Homo sapiens: one gene and its partners. The protein of the gene in region 6 interacts with the protein of the main gene of each other region in a pairwise test. Each region holds a gene or a part of one and is shown on either strand. Other genes may lie near its edges.

Evidence for each region.
Region 1: the proteins of PECAM1 (region 6) and PRUNE2 interact in binary tests that used the Homo sapiens proteins (3 or more experiments, as listed by UniProt).
Region 2: the proteins of PECAM1 (region 6) and RIMS3 interact in binary tests that used the Homo sapiens proteins (3 or more experiments, as listed by UniProt).
Region 3: the proteins of PECAM1 (region 6) and WDR44 interact in binary tests that used the Homo sapiens proteins (3 or more experiments, as listed by UniProt).
Region 4: the proteins of PECAM1 (region 6) and IDH1 interact in binary tests that used the Homo sapiens proteins (3 or more experiments, as listed by UniProt).
Region 5: the proteins of PECAM1 (region 6) and SMARCB1 interact in binary tests that used the Homo sapiens proteins (3 or more experiments, as listed by UniProt).
Region 7: the proteins of PECAM1 (region 6) and AGGF1 interact in binary tests that used the Homo sapiens proteins (3 or more experiments, as listed by UniProt).

The regions. Positions count from the first base shown.
Region 1 is NC_000009.12:76,903,315-76,907,513, forward strand, and holds the start of PRUNE2 (protein prune homolog 2), read right to left. Parts: upstream 2,801-4,199; 5' UTR 2,650-2,800; coding exon 2,614-2,649; intron 1-2,613. UniProt on the Homo sapiens protein: May play an important role in regulating differentiation, survival and aggressiveness of the tumor cells.
Region 2 is NC_000001.11:40,655,683-40,659,182, reverse strand, and holds part of RIMS3 (regulating synaptic membrane exocytosis protein 3), read left to right. Parts: exon of another isoform or gene 1-1,150; intron 1,151-3,500. UniProt on the Homo sapiens protein: Regulates synaptic membrane exocytosis.
Region 3 is NC_000023.11:118,349,106-118,352,605, reverse strand, and holds part of WDR44 (WD repeat-containing protein 44), read right to left. Parts: intron 1-3,500. UniProt on the Homo sapiens protein: Downstream effector for Rab11 which regulates Rab11 intracellular membrane trafficking functions such as endocytic recycling, intracellular ciliogenesis and protein export.
Region 4 is NC_000002.12:208,245,072-208,248,571, forward strand, and holds part of IDH1 (isocitrate dehydrogenase [NADP] cytoplasmic), read right to left. Parts: coding exon 3,298-3,500; intron 354-3,297; coding exon 248-353; intron 1-247. UniProt on the Homo sapiens protein: Catalyzes the NADP(+)-dependent oxidative decarboxylation of isocitrate (D-threo-isocitrate) to 2-ketoglutarate (2-oxoglutarate), which is required by other enzymes such as the phytanoyl-CoA dioxygenase.
Region 5 is NC_000022.11:23,789,966-23,793,465, forward strand, and holds part of SMARCB1 (SWI/SNF-related matrix-associated actin-dependent regulator of chromatin subfamily B member 1), read left to right. Parts: intron 1-1,790; coding exon 1,791-1,929; intron 1,930-3,500.
Region 6 is NC_000017.11:64,359,861-64,363,360, forward strand, and holds part of PECAM1 (platelet endothelial cell adhesion molecule precursor), read right to left. Parts: coding exon 3,289-3,500; intron 556-3,288; coding exon 280-555; intron 1-279. UniProt on the Homo sapiens protein: Cell adhesion molecule which is required for leukocyte transendothelial migration (TEM) under most inflammatory conditions.
Region 7 is NC_000005.10:77,043,904-77,047,403, reverse strand, and holds part of AGGF1 (angiogenic factor with G patch and FHA domains 1), read right to left. Parts: intron 1,058-3,500; coding exon 727-1,057; intron 1-726. UniProt on the Homo sapiens protein: Promotes angiogenesis and the proliferation of endothelial cells. Able to bind to endothelial cells and promote cell proliferation, suggesting that it may act in an autocrine fashion.

The DNA of each region.
Region 1 (4,199 bases), on a different chromosome or scaffold from region 6:
TCAAACCATTAAAAAATATATATAATGCCCACAGAATAACAAAGCAATTAAGCCAAATAGGAAAAAAAAAAACCAAACTAGTAATTAGGCTTTTTTGTTTGTTTGTTTAGGTATCATATAGCTAAACTTCTAAAGAAAAACATTTAAAACATAGCTCCTACATTCTAATTCTGGTCTAATAAGGCTTAAGTAAAAATCAGCATGGTAAATTTCTTCACCTTAAAATGTTTTCCAAAGGATTGGCTGAATTTTTAAAAATCTTACTATTTTATTTTATTTTATTTTATTTTTGAGACTGAGTCTCGCTCTGTTGCCCAGGCTGGAGTGCAGTGGCACAATCTCGACTCACTGCAACCTCCGCCTCCGAGGTTCAAGTGATTCTCCTGCCTCTGCCCCCCTAGTAGCTGGGATTACAGGCACACGCCACCATGCCTGGCTAACTTTTGTACTTTTAGTAGAGATGAGGTTTCACCATGTTGGCCAGGCTGGTTTCGAACTCCTGACCTCAGGTGATCCACCCGCCTCAGCCTCCCAAAGTGCTGGGATTACAGGCGTGAGCCACCACACCCGGCCAAATCTTACCTTTTTATTATAAATAAATTTCCCACAAGTGAATGACATTGACTTAATTCTTTTTCTCCAAGAAAAAGGTTATCTACCCTCTAAAGGAGAATGTTATCTACTACTATATTTGAGTGTCATACATTAAGTAAAAATCTTATTACCTAGAAAATGTAACTTCTCAGGAAAATATGACACTAAAAGTGACCAACACACCTTTGCTGTGGCTGGATGTGAAAGGTTAATCATGATTTCTAGAAGAAGCTTATTCCAAGAAACGATAAAATTAGCAGTAATTGTTCTGGCTAAGACATGAAACTGGTAACAATATTTCAAACAACCGCTTCTCTTTCCTGTCCTTTTTTTTTTAATGATGTAGAGCAATTGCTCGTCTAATGAAGGGTAAATAAATTACAGATTACTTTCAACTCATTACTCGGAAATAGGGAAACTTCCATTCCAGCAACTGCTCCTCAGAATTGAGACAAACCTCTTGCTCATATCAGACCCCACAGTCTAAATGTTTATTGTGAAAATATTGATAAATAAATGTTATGGGAGTGAAAAACAGATACAGCCCAGAACTCTGTGTTTGTCATTGATTACCATTTTCATACACACACACGCACAGTTGCCAAAATTGTCTTTCATTTTTGAACATTTCTCCTTCATTACTAGGTAAAGAACAGAACATGTACTTATACTATCAGAAATGCCAAATACTTACTTGAGTTTCTGAAATTAGTATTTTCATCCATGTGCTCTAGTAAAACTATAAAAGGGTCAATAAACACAGAGATGATCACAAACTTCCTCAACTCGGAAATCTCCACAAACGTTCAACTCTCTGGGAGGTTTCAGGTAGAAAGTTTTATATAAGCACTTATCAACTTTAATGGTCTTTTACAAGATAGTTACAGTTAGACCATTGTAAGGATCACACTTCCGTCTGCACTCTGAATGGTGGTTCAGGCATCTTTGGGCCCTCCCTTCCTGCACTCCCTTTGTTGTGCGAGGGTAAATGAGTTACAGTAATAACCCTGCAAATATCCTGCCTTGTGATTAAAACATTACCTTAATGCAGACTTTACATTTTGGCTTCTATGAAGGCTTAAAGGTTAAAGGCATCATAAATTATGCATTTCTTTCTATGCCAGGCCTGTAAAAGGTGCTTTTACAGTTCTTTAAAGATATTGCTTCTAAATGAGTACAGGCTTTTCTTTTTTTTTCTGCCAAAACAGAAACATTTCCATTATGTTTATTACTGCTGTGCTGGAGAGCCAAAACAGTTTGGAATTAAGAAACTGCTAGAGTCTGTTGTTTCAGAATGTGTAGCAACTGTTAACATACACAGTGGAGTTGCCCATTCACTGTTTGGACAGTGATATGGTAAACATGGGCTAACACACAGGTCTGCTCCCGGGAGAACGATGATCTGGTAAACTCCAGAACACCAACAGTTAGAGCTTTCCCCTTCTGCCTCCGCCCCAATTTACAGATGTGAACAGGAATTAGCGAGACACAAGACACACTAGAATATCCCTAACTCCTGCAGTGGAGCAAGCTCTATTCTGTGGATTCTCCAGTACCACACATGTCCTTGCTACCCAGCACCCTGACTTCCTCACTTTTGTCACCTCCAGCTGAAGTACAGTTCTAAGGGTCTCTTTTTTTCCTTTTACACTTACACGTAATGCATCTGCAGAAGGCTGGGCTCTTTATCTCAAGGAAGACCACACCCATTTATCCCTTAGCTTTCAGGAGCAAACTGCTGATTTAGGGACCGAAGCTGGACTGAAGCGACCCAACTTCAGCCAGGCCACAACCTCCTTCAGCTCTGCACCTCGTCTGGTTGCGGTGGAGGATTCTGGAGACAGATTGCCAGCTTTAAGAGCCAGAGTTCCTGAGATTTCTTCCAGGAGACAACCCGCACACCCTGATAACTCCGTGGCAAAGTTGTTTCTTCCTCCTCTGCTGCAACACCTTTTCCTCTCCACCTTTCCATTAGCATACGCGCGCGCGCACACACACAGCTTTGCTCACTCAACTTACCAGTTTAGATTTGGCGCGTTGCAAAAATTCTTCCATGTCGTGGCTAGGGGTTTGGAACCCGGGTACTCGGAGGGGCGCAGTGGAAAATCTCGGCCCAAGGAAGACGAGCGGGGTCCCGGGAAAGTGGCCCGCCGGGGCGCAGCGACCGACTGCTCCCTCCTGCCGCTCTGAGGCGGCTGCGGCGGAGGCTGTGCTTGCGCCCTCGACCGTCTCGCCCAGGGCTCCCCGCCCCACCCCTCGCCCGGCCGCCGGCTCTGGGCACCCGACTCTGCCCTAATAAGGAAAGTGGGTGTGCCGCCCAGGAGCCCCGGGGCGCGCCGGGCACGCTCTCTGGCACGCGCCTCGGGCGCCGTGGCGCGTGGGCGGAGGTGCAGGGGTATGGCGAGGGGCTCCTCCGCCAATCGCAGGGCCGTGCTGCGGCCTCCTGACGTGGCGCGCCGAAAGCTGCTGCAACCATGGACAGCGCCCAGAAGTGCGAGCCAAGTGCAAGGGGCTGCTGCAGAGGGAGGCTCTGCCGCAGGCACCGCCGCGGTCAGCGGGGGAAGGTGGGAAGAGGGAGACGGGTCCCAGGAGAGCCCCCGCCTCGCCCAGCGCCTCACTGGCTGGCTGGCGCGTTACGGAGCACTCCGGCGGTCACTTAATGATCTGGTCGGCTGGCCTGGCCGGGGGAGGCACTCAGCTAGATTGGCGTGGGAGGGACGAGGAGAGAAAGAGGGGAGTTACTGCTGAGCTAAAAGCAGTACGACCTTGATGGATAATAATCAGAAGAGCAGGCTAGGAGGTTGGGCGAGGCTGCGTCTTTCCTCCCTACCATGAAAACATGTCCACACAACAATGGGCATCCACAGTTCACCCCAACTAGGTGCCCTTATGTCAGCCCTGGGACTAATGCATAGATACATCCTTCTGCAGTTCCCATCCACTGACATGTACCCTCAGGGAAAGCTGGGGCAATAGAACCTTGCTAAGGTGAGGTGCAGTCTGCAGACCGGCAACATCAGCATCGCTGATCTTATAGAAATGCAGAACCTCAGTCCCCTGCTCCTACTTACCAAATCAGAATCTGTGTGTTTCTATGAGACCCTCAGATGATTTCTATGCTTGTTAAAGTTTAAGAAGTACTACAATGAACAAATGAACTTATATCTACAAACCTTATTTTAAATCATGGGGTTTTGTTGTATGTAGCCTTGTCCGGTCCCCAAACACACTACATCAGGCTTTCTCTGACCTCTGGGCTTTTGCACACCACCTGTAAGATCCTTCCAGCCCTTGTCCTAGCCCCCAGCCTCAGCTGTTCTACAGAAGTAGCCTCAACCCTGACTGCACAGTAAAATCACATCGTAATCACCTGAGACTTGAGAAAGTACTGATACCAGGGCTTTATCCCAGTCCAATTAAATTAATATCTCTGGGCATGGGGCCACAGCATTTCTGTGGAAAGTGACCCAAGTGATTCTAATGTGCAGTTCAGGTGTGATGCTCTGATTCTCGATGAACTTTACATGTATCTAAATCACTTAGAGGGCTTGATGAAACACAGATTTCCGTGCCCCATCCTTAGAATTTTAGCCCTAATAGGTGTG
Region 2 (3,500 bases), on a different chromosome or scaffold from region 6:
TCCCCACCCCTACTTTGTCTCCATGGAGAATGTCCTTAATTCTTCAAAATCGGCTCAGCTGCTACCTTCGCTGTGAAGCCTGTGGAGCCCTTCCGCTCCTCCCCAGGCAGAGTTAGCCCACCCTCCCTCTGCCACATCTGTGCAAAGTCTACATCTCTTACTCGCTGTCTCCCACTGCACTGGGCTTCTCCGACGTAGGCACAGTGATTATTTTTTCAGGATTGTTCATCTGCGTACCTCCGGCTCCCAGCTTCTCTCTTGTCTTAATTAGGTCTTTGCTTATATACAGAAACCCACTCAAACCAGCTTCAGTAATAAAGAAGGGCTTATTACAAGGACAGAAGGGATTCCCTGGAACTAAGGGGAAGGAAAACCATTAGCTTCAGGAAGGCGGGACCTGGAGGGCCAAGGGAACTTGAAGCAGCCATTCTCTGCACCCTGCCTTTCTGTATCCACAGACTGGATATCTCTGCCTTTTCAGGCACCAAGCCACCTATAGTTCCTGTATTGTGTCCCTTGGTTTCAGCCACATGGAGAGAGAGAACTTGGGGCTTGGCAGATCCAATCCCAAACTCCCAGGAGAGGATCTGATTGGCTCAGAGTGAGGCAGGTGCCCACCCTGGTCCAGTCATCTGTAGCCTACTGGGAAGGATCAAAGAGACATGCAAACAGGGTTCTCAGTGCCCCGCTCAGAGAAGGGGGATCTTCGTTAGCTTCCAAACACATCTCCTGGAATTCTTAGAGTGCCGATGTGGGTGCAGGCAGTTGGGCCTGAGCCCCAAACTTCCATCTGGACAGCAGCTGGAGAAAAAAGGCCTGGAATTGTGACTTAAAGGAGAGTCTTTTCCTGGGCAGCAGTGCTCAGGACAGGCTCTGAAGAACCTGTCAAATGTCATTCAGAGGCCTGAGGAGAGAGAGGGAGAAGAAAGCCTGAATTTTCTCACCTTGCTTTGGAGTGAGGAGAGAGGGAAGAGGAAGCCAGGAACAGGCAGAAGAGTTTTTCCCCACGAAAATCTTCATCCTCCAAGATGTAACTCTTTTCATCAGTGAAAAACCAAACCATGTCTACCTCACCTTCCCCCTGTCACTCATTCTTGACCTGTATTGATTCTGTTCTTTGTGCTTCCCTGGTAATAAACATTTTTTTTAAGCACTTACTCTGTGCCAGACATTGTGTTCACACATTTCATTTAATCTTCACTTCTATAAGATGGGTACTATTATTATTCCCATTTTATTTTATTTTTTTAAAACATATAAATTTTATTTTATTTTAGAGACAAGGTCTCACTTTGTTGCCCAGGCTGGAGTGCAGTGACTTGAACACAGCTCACTGCAGTCTCAACTTCCTAGGCTCAAATGATCCTCCCAAGAAGTTGGGACTACAGGTGCACACCACCATGCCTGGCTAATTTTTTTTTTTTTTTTTTTTTTTTGAGACATTGTCACATTCTGTCACCCAGGCTGGAGTGCAATGGCTGGGTCACGGCTCACTGCAGCTTTGAACTCCTGGGCTCAGGTAATCCTCCCACCTCAGCCTCCCTGGTAGCTAGGACCACAGGCTCATGCCACCATGCCCAGCTCAGTTTTGTATTTTTTTGTAGAGACAGGGTTTCACCCTGTTGCCCAGATTGGTCTCCAACTCCTGGGCTCAAGCAATCCTCCCATCTTGGCCTCTGAAAGTGCTGGGATTACAGGTGTGATTCACGACACCCAGTCTGTCATCTCATTTTACAGACAAGGAAACTGCAGTTTAGGCATTTACAGGCTAGATTTTAAAGCTCTTCACCTCTCTTAATCTCGGTGATTTGCTGATTTGTCTGCTTGCTGTTTGGGATTGTGAAGGTCTCACGGGCAGATAGCAGGTTACCATCCTGCCTCTTTCCCCACTGCCCAGCAAGGGCTGCCAACTGTGGAACAGATGGATGCAGGTAGAGTAGAAAAGGTGTCTGGGTGGACGTCAAGTCTCTGACGTGTGGATCTCCCCTGTGTAGCTAGCTCTGTGACTATGGACACGTCTCATCCTTTCTGAGCCTCACATTTCTCATTCAGAAACGGGGAAGATAATTCCTGCTCTGAGGCTCATATTAGATGGTGGCCGTTATGACAATTTGTGAATAGGAAAGGACCAAGGAATTTCTAAAAGATTGTTATTACCAGAATAGGCTGTAGCAACAGGGCACTAGCGGGGCACTGTGCCCGAACTCCTGCAAGAGGTGGACAAGCCTAGAGCTTCCCAATATGTGGAGTGGGACCAGGGATGACTTTCAGTGCCATTTCTTAACATTAGCTCACGTAGTGAGAAAGTTGGTTCCCTCTCAACGATATCAAGTCCAAGATTGTCCAAGGGAGAACATGTCAGTGTAGTTTCTAGTGTGTCTTTTTTTTTTTTTTTTTTTGAGACGGAGTTTCGCTCTTGTTGCCCAGGCTGGAGTGCAATGGCGCAATCTCAGCTCACCACAACCTCTGCCTCCTGGGTTCAAGAGATTCTCCTGCCACAGCTTCCCGAGTAGCTGGGATTACAGGCATGCACCACCACGCCCGGCTAATTTTGTATATTTAGTGGAGACGGAGTTTCTCCATGTTGGTCAGGCTGTTCATGAACTCCCGACCTCAGTTGATCCACCTGCCTTGGCCTCCCAAAGTGCTAGGATTACAGGCGTGAGCCACCGCGCCCGGCCTCTAATGTGTCTTTAACAACTTTCCAACACTGGTTGCCCTCCCTTTTTAACAGAGAGCTCTCAGGCTAGGCTCAGAACATTGCCTGGCAACTCCATATAGCTAAAACATAATATCATAACTGTTTTTACTGTGTTTGTTTTATTGTCATTTTCTATTTATTAAAAGTGATACTGGCTTTCCATTTATAGTAATAACATGGTTTCTATTGAAAATAGTTGCATTAAAGTTAAAAGTGTCAATTTATTTTTATCTGTTTGTTTATTTATCGAGACTAGATCTCACTCTGTCGCTCAGGCTGGAGTGTAGAGGCCTGTTCTTGGCTCACCTCAGCCTTGACCTCCTGGACTCAAGTGATCCTCCCACCTCAGCCTCCCAAATAGCTGGGACTATGGGTGTGAGCCACTGCCCCTAGCCAGAGTGTCAATTTAAAGAAAATAAGTAATAAACAGTACAAGAGTCTGTAGATTTGTTTTGTTTGTTTGTTTGTTTTTTGAGACGGAGTCTCTGTCGCCCAGGCTGGAGTGCAGTGGCACGATCTTAGTTCACTGCAGCTTCTGCCTCCTGGGTTCAAGCGATTCTCCTATCTCAGCCTCCCAAGTAGCTGGGATTACAGGTGCGTGCCACCATGCCCGGCTAATTTTTGTATTTTTAGTTTGACCATCCAGACGGGGTTTGACCATATCGGCCAGGCTGGCCTTGAACTCCTGACCTCAAGTGATCTGCCTGCCTGAGACTCCCAAAGTATTGGGATTACAGGCGTGAGCCACCGTGCCCAGCCTAGGAGTCTGTAGATTTGGCAGAAATCATTGAGGTGACAC
Region 3 (3,500 bases), on a different chromosome or scaffold from region 6:
GTTAGACAGTAAGTCTAAAATACCAATAATTAGAAATTATTTTCTGTTTAAGACCACCACTATACTTCACATCCTAAAACTATTTAGGTTTTTAATATTTTTTAAAATCAAGGGACAGGTGCAGTGGTGCATACCTGTAATCTCAGCACTTTGGGAGGTCGAGGTTGGGTGGATCAGTTGAGCCCAGGAGTTTGAGACTAGCCTGGGCAACATGGTGAAACCCCATCTCTACAAAAAAAAAAAAAAAAAAAAATATATATATATATATATATATATATATATATATAAATTAGCTGGGCGTGGTGGTGCACATATGTGGTCCCAGCTACTTGGGAGGCTGAGGTGGGAGGATCACCTGAGCCTGGGGAGGTCGAGGCTGCAGTGAGCTGAGATTGCACCATTGCACTCTAGCCTGGGTGACAGAGTGAGACCCTGTCTCAAAAAAAAAAACAAAAAACAAAAAACAAACAACACAAATTTTATCTGTCCTATCTTATGAAGTAGATTATCACAAGAAGAGAATACAGTTTCCAATTTACAGGAGTTTATACAGATTCAACTTGAGCCCCCAAATTGCCATGCCACTATGGACTATCCTACCCCCATGAGTTACCAACTGACAGTCAGATGTCACTAAATATAAATTGTTTATTTATTTATTTTTGAGACGGAGTCTTGCTCTGTTGCCCAGGCTGGAGTGCAGTGGCATGACCACAGCTCACTGTAACCTCCGCCTCCCGGGTTCAAGCGATTCTCCTGCCTCAGCCTCCCAAGTAGCTGGGTGTGTGCTACCATGCTCGGCTAATTTTTGTATTTTTAGTAGAGATGGGGTTTGACCACGTTGGCCAGGCTGGTCTCGAACTCCTGACCTCAGGTGATCCACCCGCCTCAGCCTCCCAAACTGCTGAGATTACAGGCGTGAGTCATGGTGCCCGGCCGGATGTCACTAAATTTAGAACTTGAATTTACTAACTAATATGTAGAGGGTTGTTTTTTCTCACTTCAATATGATGTTACATGAGTGCGATAAAACAGCATTTGTAAATATACTTCTATCACTCCTTAAAGCCTTCAGTAATCAAATTTGTGATCAAATGTCAACTCATCAACAAACAGCCATTTTTAAGGAAACTTCCCTAAAGTAATAAATATTGCACAGGTATTTTTTAAATTAAAACTTGTATCAATTTTCAATTCAGAGAGAAATGTTTCTGACACCTAAGTAAAGTGAGAAGCTGAGTTTTCAACAAAGGCAGCTACACACCTTTTTGTTTTTCAGACCTAACAATTATTCAGGACAGTTTGGTCTCAGTTCCCATGACTTAAGATTTTATCATTATTCCTATCTGAATATGGTAGATTGCAGTTAATACTAACTAAATGCCTAAGAATAAAATAATACAAATAATCACTGTTCTTAGACAAGCTATTTTGCCATTGTTTTTCACTTTCACTTGGAAAAAACTCGTAAGCAAAACTTAGGATTCTAAAATAGTTCAAGACCTCTGATAGGCAAGGTATGAAGAAACAGTCAAGTAAACCATCTTAAAAGCCCAGCTAATAGGGTAAGTGCCAGAAACCTATGGCAGGAATAGCCAGCAATACTTTCCCTTCTTCCGCAGACATGGTAGCATGGTATAAGTGAGGAATCAAGAGACCTGGGCTCTAGTTCCAAGTCTGCCCTTATTAGCAATGTGTCACTTCCCCTCTCAGACCCTAAATTTCACTTTCAGTTAAAAGGGAAGGCTGGGCTAAAATGATCTCCAGTCCCTTCCTACTCTAAAAATGTTATGATTCTATCCTTCTTCCAAGGCCTCAAAAATATTTTGGCTGCCACTAAAAAAAAGAGTGCTGAAAATGTTACATTTATTTTTACAACATGTTCTCAGTGCCAGCCTTTAGTATGTGTAAGTATAAACCACATGAGTTAGCAGGGGCATTCATCTCATATATAATTTACCCAGTAAATACTTAATTTCAAATTTATGGGTCTTGAACTATGTACCAAATACCATTAAGTTAAACGAAAAGATTAAAAAAAATCACGAAAGATTTACCAAGAACAAAAGCTTATCAATACAAGCACACTATTAAACCTCAATATAAAGACATTTAGAGTTGGAAGGGTTCTCAAGAGTGTAATCCCCTCAATTTAAAGATGAGGAAATAAAATGACTCACAGTGCAGGGCTCTTTTCTAGTGTACCACACGATTCCTCTTCTCTTTCCTGCTCTATCAAAAGACAGCCCAGTAGCAGAAAGAACGCCAGACAGTCAAACTGATCCGGGTTCTAGACCTAGCTCCACCATTAATTTGCTGTGGCAGCTTTTACAAGTTGCTTTCTCTCTCTAGGTTTCAGTTTTCACAACATTTTACACGAAGGAGTTTAACTAGATGTCCCTTCTAGCTGCAACAGGCTATGATCTTGCAAAATTCCTATCTGACAAAACAAAAATACACGTTGCTGAAAGAAAGTGGAATTTCTTGCCAAGAGAACAAAAAAGTTTAGGCTGCTGGTTTTAATGGAGATGTATCAGTTCAATTCAGCAACTTGGTCCTAAAGCATTTTACTCCAGAATTTACCAGGGGAGGATCTCTGTCCACCTCTCTGTCACTGCTCTCATCGCCCTCCACAGGAAAAAAAAAAAAAAATACTGGACTAGGAGTCTGAAGAGCTGGTTTCAAATCCCAGTTCTGCCACTTAAAAGCTCTCTCCTAGGACAAATTCACTTAACCGTCTCTGAGTCTAAGGTTCCTAGGCCAGGTGCGGTGGCTCACGCCTGTAATCCCAGCACTGTGGGAGGCCGAGGCGGGCGGACCATGAGGTTAGGAGTTCAAGACCAGCCTGACGAACATGGTGAAACCCCGTCTCTCCTAAAAATTAGCTGGGCGTGGTGGCGCACACCTGTAGTCCCAGCTACTCAGGAGGCTGAGGCAGGAGACTCTCTTGAACCCGGGAGGCGAAGGTTGCAGTGAGCAGAGATCGTGCCACTGCACTCCAGCCTGGGCGACAGAGCGAGACTCCATCTCAAAAAAAAAAAAAAATGTTCCTCATATGTAAAAATGAAGATAAAAATGAGAAAACCTGGGCCTGGCGAGATGGCTCATGCCTGACAGTAATCCCAGCGCCCTGGGAGACTGAGGTGGGAGGATCACTTGAAGCCAGGAGTTTGAGACCAGCCTGGGCAACATAGCAAGACCCCATCTCTAAAAAAACCTTTAGCTGAGCAGGGTGGTATGCACCTGTGGGAAGATAACTTGAGCTTAGGAGTTTGATGCTGCAGTGAGCCATGATCTCACCACCTCTCCAGCCTGGGCAACAGAGTGAGACCCTATCTTGGAAAAAAAAAAAAAGAAAAGAAAAAAGAAAATAAAGAAAACCTGACCTAAAATATCAATAAAAAAGCATTATAAATACGGCATATATTGCAAAGCTGGGCAAGTGAAGATCATCTGCCACTGTAGAAAAGTAGGCTGTACTGGAATTAAAAGTCTCTAAA
Region 4 (3,500 bases), on a different chromosome or scaffold from region 6:
AATCATCTCCTTGTCTTTGCCTAAAGGCATTTCCAATTAAGTGGGTAACCCTTTTGTGCCTTTATTCATGCCACAGGAAGGTATGGAAGCAAATTACTTCTTTATGTCAAGTTTCGGGTTTTGCAAAAACACTGTAGATTCAGATTATATTTTTAGGCAGTCACATAACTAACAAAAAAAGCAATAAAAATATTATCTAAATCATTTGTTTAAAAAAAAAAGAAGCTTATGCTACAGTCATACATACCTTCAAAGTTATGTACCAGGTATGTCACCTTTTGGGTTCCGTCACTTGGTGTGTAGGTTATCTCTACTTTTCCAGGCCCAGGAACAACAAAATCAGTTGCTCTGTACTGTGTAGAGGGGAAAAAGGTATAAAGAAAAAAAAAATACCCTAGCAGGAATTGTAAGGAGAATATTCATATAATATAGACCTAGAAGACACCTAGACAAATAGGGCAGTATGTCAAACTTCTTTTTTTTTTTTTTTTTTTAGGAGATGGGGATGAAGAGGTCCAGACATTCCCCTAAATCAGTAAATATTTATTAGGTGCCTATACGAGGTATAGGAAAGTTTTCTGAGCACTGATTTGAAGAGGACAGAGAATAACATAAGCCACTTTCCTTTAGGAAGTTTACAACCCTATAAAGACATATATAAGTGAAAAGCAATATAAGAGCTTTCAAATGCCAAAAGAGGGTATTAGACCCCCCCCCCAAAAAAAAAAAAACTATAGGATGACAGAGGAAAAGAGGTGACCATGGAAGGAAGTCAGGGAAGTCTCCCTAGAGGGTGATGATAACAATACTAATTGTAGTACTGAGGTAGCTAATGCTTTGTCCTTACTCTATGCCAGATGCTTTAAATGCTTAACTTGCATAATCTCATTTGATTCTTACATCAGTCTTACAAGGAGGGAACTATGATATAGTAGAAATAATGCATCCAGGGTCAAAGGACTTGAGGTCTCGTCCTTACTTAGGCCATCGGGGCTCGGTCTCTCATGGTATCATTGTTACTAGTGTTATAGGACTTGTTCATATGGAGCAATCAAATCATTCTGGGAGCAGCTACAATGGGATGATGATGATTTTTAGGAAAGGGCTGTTCAAGGACAGGCACCTCCCTCATGGGCCTCAGCTACTCAGTGGAATAATATGCCTGGCATATACTAGACATCCATAAGTCTTTGCTGCATTGTATCTTCTTCAATGAATTGAATCAGATACTTGCAGAGTTAGGTACCAGCAGGTGCCGGCCACATCTATAAGTGTAGAGAAATACTAATAACAACTGGTAAAAGAGCAGTAAGTAACAATAAAGATTAAACACCTACTTTACACAGAACATTTTTGACATATAAAATCCATAAAGTAAATATGGGTGGTAATTTATTACTATTTCTGAAAAGGGAGAAACTGAGGTACCAAAGCACCATAAATGCTTTGTATAGGTTTATGTATATTTAAACAGTCCATGAATCAACCTGAGGTTTGAAATTCTCTTTCTGGACTTTAATAAATAGAATGGCCATTTTTACAAATGACTGATGCCAAAATAATTAAAAAAAAAAAAAAAAAGAGGAAGGCCGGGCATGGTGGCATGCCTGTAATCCCAGCACTTTGGGAGGCGGAGGCGGAGGCGGGCGGATCACAAGGTCAGGAGTTTGAGACCAGCCTGACCAACATGGTGAAACCCCGTCTCTACTAAAAACACAAAAATTAGCCGGGCATGGTAGCATGTGCCTGTAATCCCAGCTACTCAAGAGGCTGAGGCAGGAGAATTGCTTGAACCCGGGAGGCAGAGGTTGCAGTGAGCCAAGATCACACCACTGCACTCCAGCCTGGGCGACAGAGCGAGACTCTGTCTCAAAAACAAAAAACAAAAAGGATATACGCAGAAAAAAGGCACGACTGAACTGGAAAGAATCTAGGGTGATTTTTACAAGATTAGCGAGTTTGCACCACTGCCATCTACCTTCCCTTGCTTGGGCCCCTGGGAGCTATTTCTGAAGGCTTTGGCCAGGATGAAAGGATAGTTTTAGCCACAGAGTGGAACAAAGTTAACTGACCCCTCAAGGACTAAACTGTTTACCCTCAACACACTGTTTTCAATGATGGCTACATTAAAACCTCTGGATTTCAGCATGAGAGATTCCTGTTTTTAAGGTCCTTTTAAGACATAAACTACTTTCTGTGAAAGTCTGAAACCTCAGTTTCAACACTGAACTTTGATTTTGTTTACTTGGCAGTTTTTTTGCTTAATTTGGCAACAAGTGTACTGGTACAGAAGTAAAGAAGCAATACTTTTTTTCCAGGCAGGAAGGAATGCTTTAGTAAGGCTGCTTTCAACTACCGAGTCAGTTTTTTTTTTCTTTTTCTTTTTCGAGACAGGGTCTTGCTCTGTTGCGTAGGCAGTGGTGTGATCATAGCTCATAGCTGTAACCTTGAACTCCTAGGCTTAAGGGATCCTCAGGCCTCAGCCTTCCAAGTAGCTGGGACTATAGGCACATGCCACCCCACTCAGCTTCGCCTACTCACTTTGTATATGAATAAACAAAACTGGCTCTTCCATGAACAATTGACATAATTATTGAAATACTTTTCATTTTTGTAGAGACAGGGTTCTGCTATGTTGTCCAGGCTAGTCTCAAACTCCTGGCCTCAAGCAGTGCTTCCAAATTGGCCTCCAAAGTGCTAGGATTACAGGTGTGAACCATAGTACCCAGCCAGTTTTTTCTTTTATGCATGATGGGATCATGTTTAATACAATCTTTGGTGGTTCTCAAGTTTGCACATTAGATTCACCTGGGGAGCTTTAAAATGCCTGAACCCCATGGAATTCAGATTTTAATTTGTGTAGGGTGGTACTCAAGCATTGAAACTAAAACAAAGAAACAAATCAAGCAAAGCAAAACAAAACCACCAAAAAAACTTGTAAGGGGATCCTATTGTGCAGCCAGTGTTGAAAACCACAGATCTGGTTGAACCATATGAAATTACCAACATAAAAATGGCAATATCATATGGTATAACTGAATAAAAGGATAAAGGAAAAAAAACAGCATGTTTGAAAAAAAATGTGTTGAGATGGACGCCTATTTGTAAGTTTATTTGTATTTGCCTTTAGCTAAATGTGTGTAAATATACAGTTATACATATATGCATTTCTCAATTTCATACCTTGCTTAATGGGTGTAGATACCAAAAGATAAGAATAAAACACATACAAGTTGGAAATTTCTGGGCCATGAAAAAAAAAACATGCAAAATCACATTATTGCCAACATGACTTACTTGATCCCCATAAGCATGACGACCTATGATGATAGGTTTTACCCATCCACTCACAAGCCGGGGGATATTTTTGCAGATAATGGCTTCTCTGAAGACCGTGCCACCCAGAATATTTCGTATGGTGCCATTTGGTGATTTCCACATTTGTTTCAACTTGAACTCCTCAACCCTCTTCTCATCAGGAGTGATAGTGGCACATTTGA
Region 5 (3,500 bases), on a different chromosome or scaffold from region 6:
TGCCATTAACAGACAGCTGTATTTACCAAGCCGGAGTCATGGAGCTTTGAGGACCCTAACAGATCCCCAAGTCCAGCACCTTGATTTTATATTCAGGAAACCTGGGTCCCAAGAGGGTGAAGGCTGGTTCAGAGGAAAGCCAGGAAGGCAAGCCCAGTTTCCTAAGTTCTGAAGGGGCTTTGGGGGGCATCTAGGAGACTCAGAGCCCTGCAGGGCCTGCAAGGTAGTCATAGGGGGGAGTATTGTCAATTTCTTTTAAAAAACCTAATGGAAACTCTACATTTACCATGATACTGGATGATACTGACACACAAGCCAAATAACATAGAGGGGTCTGTGCCCTCTATGTGGAAAGCGAGTGACTTGCTGTGTCTGCTCTTCTCTCAGCGTTCAGTAGCCCTGGTTGTTGATTACAGTCACTGCTGAAAATGGAGAAACATTTTATTTAATACTATGCCTGGGTCTCACACCTATAATCCTAGCACTTTGGGAGGCCCAGGCAGGAGAATCACTTGAACCCAGGAGTTTAAGACCAGCCTGGGCAACATAGTGAGACTCTTGTCTCTACAGATTTTTATTTTTATTTTTTTTAATTAGGCCGGGTATGTGGCTCACACCCGTAATCCCAGCACTTTGGGAGGCCGAGGTGGGCAGATCGCTTGAGCCCAGGAGTTTGAGACCAGCCTGGGCAACATGGTGAAACTCCGTCTCTACAAAAAATACAAAAATTAGCCGGTTGTGGTGGCAAGCAACTATAGTCCCAGCTACTCAGGAGGCTGAGGCAGGAGGATCGCTTGAGCCGAGGAGTTCGAGGCTGCAGTGAGCTATGATCGATCGCACCACTGCAATCGAGCCTGGGTGACAGAGCGAGACCCTGTCTCAAAAATAATAATAAAAATTAAAAATAAATTTAAAAATGCAAAATATATACTATGTTGCGTAGATAAAATGGGAAACATAATAGAAGTGGTCCTTCATGGGGGTGAAGTTCAGAGTTGCTGAGCATTTGGCAGATGAGTAAAGGGTACCCAGAAAATGGGAAGTGATCCCAGGTTACAGATGGAGCCAGCACCTGGCACCCAGTCTATTGGCCATCCCCTGCAATGTGACTCCGAAGTGATCATACTTGAAAAGTCAACGAGACAATAGGGTACCCTCATAAAAACTTTAGGTCTAGATTTATTTTCCTTAAGGAAGTCACACTTTCAGTATTTGCTACAAGCAAACTGAAGCCATTGTTTGAGTCAGTGATGATTTATATAGCAGTCTGGTGATTGCCTTGTAAACCTTTTGGAAAATTCCTTTGGTATCCCTGGTTTGGGTTTTGTTACTAAACAAAGCAACACAGGCCATGGGGGAAATTATCTGGCATCTGTCTAAAATTAAAAGACCTTTTTGGTGTTTATTACATTGTAAAGATATCAAAGTCTTGTCCTTAAGATAAAAGAAGGTCAAGGAGGCCTTGCATTTCTGGAAAGTGCCAGAGATCCTTAGTCCAAAATCAAAATCACCACGAACTTCTTGCTAAGCTCTGGGGGCCTCCCACTCAGGCATCTGCCCAGGCCTTTCGGAACTTGGTTCTGTTGTCAGGATGCACATATGCAGGCCAGATGTGCACTGCTGGTGAACCCTTCATATCAGCAGAATGTGTTTTAATGCTGCCGAAAGCGTGGCGCCTGGGGGCCACCTCAAGGCCTGTTTGTCTGTTGCTTGATGCAGTCTGCGCCAGGACCCTCCCCTTCCCTGTGGTGCTGCGACCCTTATAATGAGCCTTCTTGCTTTACTCATAGGTGGGAAACTACCTCCGTATGTTCCGAGGTTCTCTGTACAAGAGATACCCCTCACTCTGGAGGCGACTAGCCACTGTGGAAGAGAGGAAGAAAATAGTTGCATCGTCACATGGTAAAAAAACAAAACCTAACACTAAGGGTGCGTCTTCACGAGGGTTTGTAAACCTGTTTCAAAACCACTCGCTTATGTCATGAAGATAAAACGTTTTCACTCCAGAGTGTCTTCACTGCAGCCTTGGCCTTAGTCGGGCAGGGAGCATCCCGGGGTGGGCCGCCCTGTGAGCACTCCAGGCAAGGAAGTGGCTCCAGGGAGCCATTGGTGGTCCACTGTCAGTTATTTCCAGCAGGGCCATTGGGTATGTGAGCGGGCCGGGGCCAGGACACTAGCAGGTGCTGTGAAGACATGTTGGTCTCAAAACGTTTTAGGAATGCTGCGATGCTCTGCCATCTGTCGTGGGTGTGTCGCCATAATCATCTTCCATGCAGCCCAAGTGGCGGGTGGTGGTCCCAGCTCCCACTCCCCTCTGGGGCTTTCACTGCTTGCTTCCTGGAGCACATCCATCCCATAGCACTTCATCCTGGCAGCCAGTGTGCTAGAGCCCATGTGCATGTCCCTGCTCCTGGTGGCCTGCGTGTGCCTGGGGCTTGCTAGGTACACTAGTGAAACTAGTGGGCTTTGGGTCACGGCAGCTCTGTGCAGGGTGAAAGGGTGCTCTTCAGACACTCTGGGGGCTCTGTGGGAGACACTCCCATGGAGACATTTGGGTGTGGACACAGCATGTCCTTGGGCAGGTGGCAAAACTGCTTCCCACGTGGCAATGGCGCCTTGTAGAGAGCTGCCCTGGGCCTGGGTGTGTCTGTGAGCATGTGCGCGATGCTTCGTAGTCTGCCCTGTTTGTTTGTGTCTGTAGGTGCTGCTGTGGTTTTGTCCACTGCGGGAAAGTAGTGGTTCTTTTAATGCAGGAGCCGGAGCTTCTTTTTGATCTGCTGCTATGACATTTCCACTCACTTGCTTAAAACAGTTTCCTTTTTGTTCCCCCTCCTCCCCTAGCAGAGCATCAGTCGCTAACACAGTGAGTCCCCAGCTTTGCTTCCCCCTCCGCAAGTCCCTGGGCTAAGTCTTGGGAGATACCTTCCCCATAAGCGATTGATTTCTCCAGGAGAAGCCAGACTGGGCCCACAGACAGGTAGCTCTTGACGGAGATTCCCCGGAAGAGCTAGGGGTCGAGCTGCCTAGAATCTGTCCTGCTTCCCAGGCAGCACGTGTGGACCGGCTCGGGGATAGAAATTCGTGTTTGGTGTGAAGCAGCTCTTTCCAACTCTCTGGGCTCTTGTTTTAAAAGAAAAGTATTCTTCATCTTCCATTCCATCTCCCCACCTTGCATCGTGTTGTGGATTGTGGTGGTGTCAGACCTCTTCCCACTGGGGTGTTACTCTGGGAGCTTTCTTTTCCCCTGAGTGAGGACCAAGAGAATATGTTCTGGAGTCGAGTGTCCCCGCTGGTCGTGCTGTATTGTAGTTGCTGGTGCTGCCCTGAGCACTTCCCTCTGCCCCGAGCCAGTGCTCCTGGGGCAGATTAGTCCAAATCAGTCCCATTGGAGGCTCTACCCAGCAGGACTTGTAAGTAAAGCACTCAGTCCAGATTGCCCTTTTGGAAGAGGCCAGCATTCAGCAGTAGTAAGTTTGACACCTTGCTTTTCCCACCTCCCG
Region 6 (3,500 bases):
TCCTGCCTCAGCCTCCCGAGTGGCTGGGATTATAGGCGCACGCCACCATGCCCAGCTAATTTTTGTATTTTTAGTAGAGATGGGGTTTCACCATGTTGGCCAGGCTGGTCTTGAACTCCTGGCCTCAATGATTCACCGGCCTTGGCCTCCTAAAGTGCTGGGATTACAGGCATGAGCCACCGCACCTGGCCCCCTACTTCTCTTATTGTTCCCACAGTCCCTGGGCGTGAAAGAATGCCCCAAGCCCACATGATTTCTTCTCACAGCACAGCAACTTACCTATCACCTTCACCCTCAGAACCTCACTTAACATTTTGGCATGGGAATGGCAATTATCTGCAACACACTGGTATTCGACGTCTTCAGTGGGGTTGTCTTTGAATACCGCAGGATCATTTGAGTTCTTGGTACTATTCTCCAAAACTTTACTTGTTTTTAAAAGTTGGTAAGAAATAGGCAAAGTTCCACTGATCGATTCGCAACGGACTTCGATGGTCTGTCCTTTTATGACCTCAAACTGGGCATCATAAGAAATCCTGGGCTGGGAGAGCATTTCTAGAACAGAGGGAGAAACAATCCAAAAGGCACTGAAGGTAAAAGCAAAGCATCCAGCACAAGAGGTTCCTCCTCCAAAGCCTGAGCTTTGCTTTCTATCCCTGCTGTAATTTCAAATGCCTGCCTGCCTTATTTACCTTTATAGGACACCTATGAGACTGACAGGCTGTGTGTGTGTGTGTGTGTGTGTGTGTGTGTGTGTGGTGAGAAGGGAAAGGGAAAGAGAAGTACAATAAGCAAAACAGAGAATGACAGAAATTCAAGGAAAACATTACATCCCCAGAAATACATGTTCATATTTTACCATATCTCACACGCACATGCACACATAATATACTTTTCTTGTGTTGAGCAAAGACACAGAAAACATAGAAAAAGTACAACAAGTAGCCAACAAAATGTGTGTGTGTGTGTGTGTGTGTGTGTGTGTATTTGAGACAGGGTCTCACTCTATTACCCAGGCTGGAGTGCACTGGTGCGATGACAGCTCACTACAACCTCCCAGAATCAAGCAATCCTCCTACCTCAGCCTCCCGAGTAGCTGGGACTATAGGTGCACACCACACCTGGCTAATTCTTTATTTTTTGTAGAGACAGGGTCTCACTATGTGCTCAGGCTGGTCTTGAACTCCTGGACTCAAGTGATCCTCCCACATCAGCTGCCCAAAGTGCTGGGATTATAAGTATGAGCCACCACACCTGGCTGAGCATATATGTGTGTGTGTGTGTGTGTGTGTGTGTGTGTTCTGAGACCGAGTCTTGCTCTGTCACCCAGGCTGGAGTGCAATGGCGCAATCTCAGCTGACCACAACCTCCACCTCCTGGGTCCAAGGGATTCTCCTGCCTCAGCCTCCCGAGTAGCTGGGATTACAGGCATGTGCCACCACACCCGGCTAACTTTTGTATTTTTAGTAGAGAGGGGGTTTCACCATGTTGGCCAGGCTGGCCTCAAACTCCTGACCTCAGGTGATCCACCCACCTTGGCCTGCCAAATTGTTGGGATTACAGGTGTGAGCCACCAGGTCCAGCCAATATATATGTTTTTAAATTATTCTCAGCCAGTCACGGTGGCTCATGCCTGTAATCCCAGCACTTTGGGAGGCCGAGGTGGGCAGATCACCTGAGGTCAGGACTTTAAGACCAGCCTGACCAATGTAGAGAAACCCCGTCTCTACTGAAAATACAAAATTAGCTGGGCAAGGTGGCACATGCCTGTAATCCTAGCTACTCGGGAGGCTGAGGCAGGAGAATCGCTTGAACCCGGGAGGCAGAGGTTGCAGTGAGCCGAGATCATGTCATTGCACTCCAGCCTGGGTAACAAGAGCAAAACTCCATCTCAAAAAAAAAAAAAAAAAAAAAAGATAAAAAAAGTCTTCTTAGTGCTTCAGCCTCTTAACAGATAAGAATTATATTAGGTCATTATTTAGGCATTAGTTTATTTAAACCTTATACAATGAGATTTCCTCCTCCCAAGAACAAAAAATAAAATAAAACGTTATAACACACATTTGTCTCTTGCATTCCTGCCTTTTGAGTTAGGTGGTTAGAGCATTAAAAATAGGCTAAAATCCTGGTTCAGTTGAAGCTATAATAAAATCTTAGCTGGATAAAACACAGCCACAGGTTAAATGAAAGGATCGTGACTGAATAATATAGTGACAGTGACAACTTGACTGGAGTTCTATAATCAACCAGAATCTCGCCACCCAAAGTGTGGTCCAGAGACCAACAGCATCCACATCACCAAAATGCTAGTTAGAGATGCAGAACCTGGCCCCATCTGGGCCTAAAATACTGAATCATAACCTGTATTTTAACCAGGTCTTGCATGCACATTCAGGCCTGAGAAGCCCAGCTCCTGGTGGTCAAATACCTACATTCTGTCCACTGGAAGTCTTACCCTTTTGGGTTAGCCAGGATACAGATTTAAAAAATGGAATTTTGATATTCTTGGCCGGGTGTGGTGGCTCAGGCCTGTAATCCCAGGACTTTGGGAGGCTGAGGCAGGCAGATCACGAGGTCAGGAGATGGAGACCATCCTGGCTAACACGGTGAAACCCCATCTCTACTAAAAATACAAAAAAATATTATCCGGGCGTGGTTGCGGGTGCCTGTAGTCCCAGCTACTTGGGAGGCTGAGGCAGGAGAATGGCGTGAACCCAGGAGGCGGAGCTTGCAGTGAGCCCAGATTGTGCCACTGCACTCCAGCCTGGGTGACAGAGCGAGACTGCATCTCAAAAAAATAAATAAATAAATAAATAAAAGTAATAAAAATAAAAATACAAAAATTAGGCAGACATGGTGGTGGGCACCTGTAATCCCAGCTACTTGGGAGGCTGAGGCAGGAGATCACTTGAACCTAGGAGGCAGAGGTTGCAGTGAGCTATCGTGCCACTGCACTCTAGCCTGGGCGACACGTCTCAAAAAAAAAAAAAAGAAAAGTTTAACATTGACTAAGTAGTGTTTCCTTCCTGAACTTTTGGGTGGGTACTTGCTCCAGGAGGCAGAATCTTGCCAGAATCTTAGCAAGTCAGAGGCCACATCATCATCAGTGAATCAGTGTTCTGAGCAGGAATACCTCCTTGTTTCTTTGGCCTTTGATTTCGCACTTCTCTCCCTCTAGTTCTTACCCTGCCTGAGTCTGCTCAGACCGGAGAGGGCGGCAGCTGCAGATAAATTTCCTTTCTCCCATTCAACCCTGGATGTCCTCTGAGTCAGCAACAATATACTCACCACATACGACTATCTGGACTGTGTTGCTTTTCTTGACCACTTTGTCAATACCTGCAGTGCAGATATACGTCCCACTGTCCGACTTTGAGGCTATCTTGGTGAAATCTTGAGTCTGTGACACAATCGTATCTTCCTTCTGGATGGTGAAGTTGGCTGGAGGTGCTCCTGGGATGGAGCAGGACAGGTTCAGTCTTTCACCTTGGTCCAGATGT
Region 7 (3,500 bases), on a different chromosome or scaffold from region 6:
TGTTCAAGTCCTTATATAAATTGTATCGTATTTGCATATAACTTATGTGCATCCTTCTGTATAACTTAAATCATCTCTAGATTACTTACACCTAATACAATGTAAATGCTATATAAATAGGTACACCATATTTAGGGGACAATAACAAGAAAAAAAGTGTGTACATGTTCAGTACAGATGTAGCTATCCATTTTTTTCCCTGAATATTTTTGATCTGAGGTTGCTTGAATCCACTAAAGTAGAACCCATGGATACAGAAGGCCAACTGTAATATGAAATCCTGTGTTTTAAAAGTATGTCTTTATATATTCAAGTAAAAAAAAATTAGATTTACCATAATATCCATGTAGCTGAATTCATAATGTATACTTTTTAAAGACAACTTGTTTTTCTCTCTCAGTTACAAAAGTAGACTACAAATATCTAACCCACTAAAACAGCCTTAATCTATATTTTAAGATTAGAATCCAGGTAACCTGGCTTTGTATTCTACTGACTATGCCATTCAATACAATGAAACCTTCTGAAGGTCTAAGTATTAGTCATTTATTCACATCCTACTCTCTAAGAATAACCAAGTGGCAACCCACAACATTTTCAATAACATCATTAAAATAATGTTTACTTTCTGGCAGATATACTACAACTCACTAACATTTTTAATGGTTTTGCTCTTTTATAGTTACCAGACTGGGCTATTTACTTAAATAATGATTATTTACTCACCTTCATCCTCACTATCTTCTGCAGTTACATTGCCTTCACTGGTAATGGCTTCGTCATAACTATCCTCAGTCTGAGAGTCTGTAATTTCACCTTCCTCTGGTTCACTATCAGTCTCCATGATTTTCTCATCTTTAAATGATGTTGAATTAGAGATGTTTTCATGAAGAGGAGACTCTATAGTATTTCCACTAGTTGGAACAGTGACTTTGGGGGGACTATTTTTGTGATGAATGCCTATTTTGGCCTTCTTTTTCATATTTGCGAAATTTTCTTCCTCATTGCAGCTTGTATGTTCAACACTGAAGGCTTTTTGATCCTCTGAGTTCAAATCCTGGAGAAGGGTGGGTAGATACGAGGGAACAGGGGAGAATACTCTTAAACATCACTATCTTATAACATTACATCAAGTTTCAACGAATTCGTGAAGATATGTGTCAGTAAAATAACAATGGTTACAATCTGTTCCCCCTCTCCTTCTCACATTTCCTTTCTTGGTTAATGATATTACCATCTTCTTATTATCCAAATTAAAAATCCTATAGTTATCTCTGAGATCCCCTTAACCATATATAAAATTACGAAGTGCTACAGACTTTTCTCAAAATATATCCAAATCTGTCTCTCTATTCTCAATGTCTTAACATTCCTAGTTCAGGCCCTCATCACATACTGCCTGGACTATGGGATAGCCTAGACCAATGGTGTCCAATAAAAATGTAACACAAACCATATTTGTACTTTTACATTTTCTAGTAGCCACATTTAAAAAGTAAAATTATTAATGAGATAGTTTACATAGTCTGCAACATCCAGAGTGTATTTTACACTTAACAGCACATTTGAGTTTGGATTAGCAAAACTTCAAGTGCTCAACAGCCACATGGAGCTGCTGGCTACCTTACTGGATAGTGCAGGCCTAAAGAATACCTATTCTAAATTTTCTTTTTAAACTGGTAATCAATTAGCTAGTCAACACAAATAAAATACAGAATTAGCTTTACTTATGACATGAATTTAAAGATCCAAATGTACTCAATATGTAGCAAAATTGTAGTTTTGCTAAAATTTAGTACTTCAGATTCAGCTTGATAATACATAAAAGTTTAAAGTACAAATTAACTGTGACTATCTTATTCCAAAATTTTAACTTGCCTGGCATAAGTCTTTTATTATTTATTGTACATTTATAGTTGATATGCCTTATAATAAATGAACATTTTTTAATTAACAAAAATGATGTATTTTTATCATGTACAACATGAAGTTTTGAAATACGTACACAATGTACAGTGGTTAAATTGAGCTAATTAACATGTACATTACCTCAAATACTTATTTTTCTGTGGTAAGAAACTTAAAATTTGCTCTCAGCAGTTTGCAATAATACAACACATTGTTATTAACAATAGTCACCGTGTTATACAATGGTCAAATCTATCATTTCAGCCTTAGAAAAAGTAAATAATTATTTTCCATTTTTTTCCCTTGGTTTCTAACGCACTCTCACTTTTCTTTCTACCTCAGAGCAACATGAGGCGAATTCATATGCTCTTCTGTTATTTTATAAAATATGAGAGCATCTCACACACCTTTCTTTCTTTTTTTTTTTTTTTGAGACGGAGTCTCGCTCTGTCGCCCAGGCTGGAGTGCAGTGGCGCGATCTCGGCTCGCTCCAACCTCCACCTCCCAGGTTCAAGAGATTCTACTGCCTCAGCCTCCCGAGTAGCTGGGACTACAGGCATGCGCACCACCATACCCAGGTAATTTTTTTATTTTTAGTAGAGATGGGGTTTCACCATGTTGGCCAGACTGGTCTCGATCTCTTGACCTCATGATCCATCCACCTCACATACCTATCTTTGATAACAGCGTAAGTTCAGCTTGGAGACTGGCTAAACATTCACAGTGTGATAAATTATACACACTTCTAGCAATACAAATTCACCCAGAACAAGAACAAGGGCAAGGAGCTGAAAAACCATGAGGAGCTTTTACATTATAAAATTATAGCAAAAAAGTTCCCTATCTGTATATACTCTTAAAAAAGCAGTTTCCAATCTTGTATATTTATTACTTACTGAACAACATATGCAGGGAAAGCTATTTGCCAGTACAGAACATTAGATAGTCATTAAGTGAAAAGAAAGGAGGGCTTATTTATGGGCACTGAGGCACATATGTATATTTCAAATTATTTACTCCTATCTCCCCTACTGTCTTCCTTCCACATAACCTTCACCTACAAAAAGTGAGGCTCAAAAATATCTTTAAAAATAAAGAAAACAGATGAAGATACTCTCTTGGCCTCACAGGTACCTTTTAGAATCCTCAGGAAATTCTCAAAATTCCAACAGGATTTTTCTTAAAAGTTCTTGTCGAGTGCTCAATGGTGCCCAGGCTGGAGTGCAGTGGCGTGATCTCGGCTCACTACAACCTACACCTCCCAGCCGCCTGCCCTGGCCTCCCAAAGTGCCGAGATTGCAGCCTCTGCCCGGCCGCCACCCTGTCTGGGAAGTGAGGAGTGTCTCTGCCTGGCCGCCCATCGTCTGGGATGTGAGGAGCCCCTCTGCCTGGCTGCCCAGTCTGGAAAGTGAGGAGCGTCTCCGCCCGGCCGCCATCCCATCTAGGAAGTGAGGAGCGTCTCTTCCCAGCCGCCATCACATCTAGGAAGTGAGGAGCGTCTCTGCCCGGCCGCCCATTGTCTGAGATGTGGGGAGCGCCTCTGCCCCGCCGCCCCATCTGGGATGTGAGGAGCGCCTCTGCCCGGCCGAGAC